Regions from separate parts of the Homo sapiens genome. Here region 1 is linked to region 2. A link means that fine-mapping ties the variant in region 2 to the expression of a gene that starts in the linked region. Tissue or cell type: cerebellar hemisphere. Region 2 holds a variant in brackets; the other region holds the start of a gene. All regions are shown on one strand. Distances are from middle to middle.

Evidence for each region. PIP is the estimated chance that this variant, and not a neighbour inherited with it, causes the effect.
Region 1: DOCK4 starts here. The variant in region 2 is fine-mapped to the expression of DOCK4 in cerebellar hemisphere (GTEx, PIP above 0.99). The same link has a PIP of 0.9 or more in cerebellum.

What each region holds. Positions count from the first base shown.
Region 1 is chr7:112,204,705-112,207,389 of GRCh38, forward strand. It overlaps DOCK4 (dedicator of cytokinesis 4), which reads right to left and starts at 1,695. Exons shown (of 53, transcript NM_001363540.2): 1 at 1,398-1,695. The coding sequence starts at 1,434. ZNF277 (zinc finger protein 277) reads left to right here and starts at 1,991. Exons shown (of 12, transcript NM_021994.3): 1 at 1,991-2,103. The coding sequence starts at 2,013. RefSeq lists a silencer at 1,567-1,916 and an enhancer at 2,087-2,206.
Region 2 is chr7:111,979,669-111,982,353 of GRCh38, forward strand. The region is part of intron 7 of DOCK4 (dedicator of cytokinesis 4); the gene reads right to left. Among named protein-coding and RNA genes, the nearest start is that of DOCK4-AS1, 170 kb to the left of the region's middle. The variant C/G (reference allele first, on the strand shown) is at 1,284.

The sequences.
Region 1 (2,685 bases), 230 kb after region 2:
AATGGACCCCAAAGTCCTATCCCCAGGCAAAGTTGGGAAAAAAAAAAACAAAAATCCCCTCGGACTACGACTCCCTGGGAAGGCTTTCCAGATGTTTTAAATTGCAGGAAAATGAATTTAGAACATAAGCAGATATCTACACATCACCTAAATCACTAGACCTGTCCTCAATTTTAAAACACACACACACACACACACACACACAAAGTACACCAGTCGGCAGAACAGGGCATTATAGGAAATAAAGAGTGTTAGTAAAATCCATAATGCTTTCTGTTAGACCTTCTGGGAGGTTATAATTGCATTTGGCCGGCTGCAGCCTTGTCGGAGAGCCTGGCTTCTTAATAGTCTCAACCCTAAAAGGAGTAACTGTCAAGGGGCGACCCAGCTGAAATCAAACAACAAAAACGGGAACTGTAACCCGCCTGAAATGGGAGGAGGAAAAGGAAGGGAGACTCCTGTATTCATCAGTCAACATTAATGTCCTTTGTTGTTCACCTTTACACAGAACAGCGAGAGCTATCCTGTTCCTTTTTCTCCGAACGCCAGTGTCAGGGTATGCTTTCCTAAAAGCTATCTCCCTGCCCCCAAGAACCAGGCTTTCCGATCCCCCTCCCCATTTATCACTCAGCAGCCCTGTACCGCCACACCGCCCCCACTGCGCTCACCCGGGGTCGAGAGGGTGGCCAGAAGTAAAAACACTGCTGAAATACCCGTTCTTCTCCAAAGACCAAAGAACCGAGCGGCGCAGATGTTGAAATTTACCAATGCCCCCGCCCCGCAACATACACACCCCATAAATCCGGGATCGCAGAGAGGGAGGAGGGTCAGAGAGGGCTCAGCTTGTCAGAGCGGCTCTCTCCAGGACCCTGCCACATTCCACACTCCGGGAATGTCGATCCGAGCCAGAGGGAAGGGTTTGCGCCTCCCTACTGTTTTGGGGGTGTTCTCTCTGCCCGAGTGTTGTTGTCTCCCTCTCCACCCAGAGGAACCGTTGCAGCTCCCTGTCGCTTTGGGGAAGAAGGGTAAGGAAGGAGAGAAACCCCATTCGCCTCCTCTTCCAACTTGACACACACACACACACACACACACACGCCCAGTCGCCACTCCAAACTCCGCAGGCAGAGCCCGAAGCTAGCGGGCCGGCCGCGCGCTCCCCCAAGCTGTCCCGGCGCTTCGGGAACCAGTGCGGGGCGCGCCGAGCAGGCGGTGCGGGGCGAGAGCCTGGTGCGCAGCCCTCTGCCTGGAGCTGGCTCGGCAAAGCCCCGTACCAGCTGCGCGATGCCAGGATTAGGCATTTTCAACCGGGCGGAGCGAGAGGGGCGCGGGGGCAAGGACGAGAAATGCGCACTCGCTCGGGCCAGAGCAGAATAAAAGTTCGCCCCGCGGAGACTCACCCACGCCGTATTTCTCGTGCTCCGTAGGTATCCACATGGCTAAAGGGGCTCCGGGGTCTTCAGGCTTTGTAATCCCCGCGCCCCTTCTCCGGCTCACAACAATGCACAGTCCCCGAGCAGCGCTGCAGTGCCGGAGCCCAGCGGCTTCGCGCGGGCTGCGGGCGCTGGGCAGGATCTGCGCTGGAGGCTCCCGAGCCCAGCGTTGACACTGCGCCGCCCGCAGCTCTCCCGGCGGCGGCTGCTCACAGTCCTCCGACGCGCTCCCGGGTACCCGGCGGCGCAGTCATTGTTCTGATTCACTGAACTAAGCGAACACGCCGGGGCACTCTCCGGCGCACCCCCGCCCGCCAGCGCCTAGTCCAGCCCTCCCGTCCCAGGGCCCCGCAGCACGCTGGGAATTGTAGTTCTTGGCCTCCCCATCCCGGAAGTGGGCGCGGCAAATGTGGTTCGGGGCGGGGATTCAGTTTTACTGATTGCGTCCTATTGGTCCAGAGCGCGGCGTAGGTGTGGAGAAAACATTACGTCGACGGGGAGTTCGCCTCCAGTAGCGTTTCTACTGGTGCCACCCCGCCTCCGACCCGCCCTGCGGCCCTCCCTTTTCTTTTCTGCCGGGTAATGGCTGCTTCCAAGACCCAGGGGGCTGTCGCCCGAATGCAGGAAGACCGTGATGGGAGCTGCAGCACAGTCGGGGGTGTAGGTTATGGGGGTGAGTACGGTGCCCCGGAGGCGCGGCTGATGTGTCTTCCTTTCTCTATGACCGGGTGTGCAACGGACCTCTGGTCTGACCCTAGGAGCCCTTCAGCTCTGGGGCCACCTGGGTTCGACTGGGCCCCACGGGTGGTGGCCCAGCGGGATGGGTTGGAGCCGGTGGCGGCTACTTGGTTGGGGCTGCCCGGGGATGGCGGAGAAAATGCCATGGGATGGCGGAGAAAATGCCATGGAATGGCCTTCCCCTCCGCCGGGGAAGCTCCCTGAGCGTTTGTCTTCTGGTTTGGAGCTCCCAGCTTTGAGCTAGCTGCTGAGTGGGTTTGGTTCAGATCTGGTTCGCGCGCGTGTGTTTATAATTTTGGGATTAGCAGCTCTTTCTCCTCACCAGTACACTGCCTTGGTTTGCTTGGTTTGACCTCGCAGGTGTGTTTTATTTAGCTTCCGGAGTATTTCCAGTCGCAGACTGGTGGTCACTGCTCTCCACTCTACAGATTTGCCCAGTTTGTGGCTGAGGTGACCTCTGAAGGGAAAGTGTGTGTATCTCACAACCTCCCTGTAGATGGTTAACTGCTCTGGGTGT
Region 2 (2,685 bases):
TGACTACTAAAGGCCAGAGCTACAGAAATAGATGTAAAAACCTCATGAAAAGAATAGGCCTTAAGGAGATATCCTCTCTTAACCTCAAATAGTGCAAAGTTCCCTGCACCAATCATGACATTCACAAGAATTGAGGAGAAAAAATTAGCTCCTTTACCGATGCAATGAATCCAATATATCTAGATCAGTGGTTCTCAACCTTGGCTGCAGTTTAGAGTCCCCAAGAGAGCTTTTAAAAAATACTTATGCCCAGGTCTTATCTCAGAACAATTAAATTAGAATTTCTAGGGGCTGGGGGTCCAGAGACTGGTAGTTTTAAAAGCTCCCCAGGTGATTCTAATGGGCAATGAGGGTTGAGAATCACTGATCAGGATCATGTGCAGACAGATGCAAATCACAGCAAACTAAACAATGTATTGTTGCATCTTTCGAGTAATTATGGGCTTGAACTTTTGTTCTTTGAATACATGCTAGTAATAAGCCTGCCTGACTCTACCCTTTGCACATTTAACATGGGCCTTCACATCTGGCACACTCTGGCACTGAAAATACCCCTCTTCCCATCCCCACTATTCTTTCAGGTCTAGGACCCATTTGGACTTAGTAGGTTATGATTACTTTCTTTTCTCTTGGTAATTCAGTACTTCCGCAAACTGCTAAAAAATTTCTGTGAAAGTATTATTACAATCAAATTAAAAAGTCAAGTTCACACTTCAAGGGCTTGAGATAATTTGTGGCTACAAATGCACCTATCAGTTACTCTAACTGTGCTTAACAGTTGAACTAGCTCTTTGATTAGGAGAAGAAAGAGATTCATCCCAAAGATTTATTTAACTGACTCAAATTTTTAATCTTCAAATAATGCATTAATTATTGAATGAACTGTCTACACCAGGGTTTACCAACCTCAATGCTATTGACAACTAGGCTGAATATTTCCTTGTTGTGGGGGCTGTCCTGGGCTTTGTAGGACATCTAGCAGCTTTTCCTAGCCTCTACCTACCAGATGCCAATAGTACCTCTCCTTCCCATCTCCTGTTGTGACAACGAAAAATGTCTCCAGACAATGCCAAATATCCCCTTGGGTTGAAATTGCATGTGAGAACCACTGTGTTCCCTCTGAGATCTGCTAGTCTAACCTTCTAAGAATTGCAGAGTAAGCAGATGCATGATCTTACAAATTCTAAAAAGATAGAAACCTGCAGGCACAAATAGGAGAGAAGCTGGCTAATAAGGCTCCCTTTATTTATAGAAGGATTGAAATCTTGCCTTTGGCACTAAAC[C/G]AAAATATCTAAGTGGACATATGCTAACACTGTGCGGTTTAGCACTTTTACTGCTTAAATGAACACAATTAGGTGAGAAAGATCTGCTAACAGGGCTATCAAGAAACTAAAGTGAGACTTTTTTTCTAATGATGCAATATGAATTTAGTAAGATGCAAACACTTGTGTTTCAAACATGACACTGACTAGGAAGAAGTAAAAAAAGAAAAGCAGCAACAATTAATCAAATGTCCTCTGTGTTGGGCCATTTAACCTCCATGCTGAGGTCCTTGACCCAAAGTGACAATAAATTGCCAAACAACAACAAGGGATTGGTGATGGTGCCTCCCAGCTCTCCCTGGTGAAATCAACAGTCAGTCACTTTCATGTTGAATGAGAAAAACACCAGGGCTACAGAGAATCTTATTATTGCTAGGCCAGGATACAAACAGAAACTTGAAAAAGAAACTGCCTTATGGAAGCTGGGCTTAATACCTGGGTGATGGGATGATCTGTGCAGCAAACTACCATGGCACACATTTACCTATGTAACAAACCTGCACAACCTGCACATGTACCCCGGAACTTAAAATAGAAGTTGAAGAGAAAAACAAAGTAAAAAAGAAAAAGAAACTGCCTTAAAGAAAAGCACATGCTCTTCTGAAGCTTATAACTATTTGAGTTGTTTTTGGGCTATAGTCTTTGTTTTGGAAATAGTCAAGTGCAACCAGCACTGAGGAGAAAATAAGTTTTCATGTCAAATCACATTTTCTTTTCTTCATCTGTAAAATGAAGACTTTGGACTAGGATCTGAGCTGTAACATACTAAAATATCCCCTGCTGTCTTTCCCACCAACGGCCAACATTGCTAATCAATGAGACCCTAGATGAGACCCTGGAATCTTAGCAACACTGAACTCTAGGCAGCCACCCACCAATAAACTGGAATGCTGAAAGAGGTGAAATCAATTTGCCATCCCATATATAATGTTACATGAAAAGAACAGAGACAAAATTACATACGCACAAAACCAAACTCAGGAAAATAAAATATATTTGTGTCACATCAGTTATTTATCTGATACCTGACATACTCAACTAAATACAGGGGTGTGCCTAAGCTCTGCCAATGAGATGTAAGTGCAAGTGTTGTGCGGAACTTCCAGGAAGGTTCATTAAAGTATTTGAATCAACTGAGAGAAAGCTGTCTCCTTCCTACTGCCTGGAATGCAAATATGATGGCTAGAACTCTTGCAGCTATACTGCACTTAAAGGTGTTCTTGGTGATGGAAGCCATGTTCAATGTAGCAGAAAGATAAGGATCTTTTCATACCATAAAACCACAACCAAACCCAGAAATTCCTGTTTCTAAACTTGCATACTTTAAGAAATAAATTTCTATCATGTTTTATCTTCTGCTTTT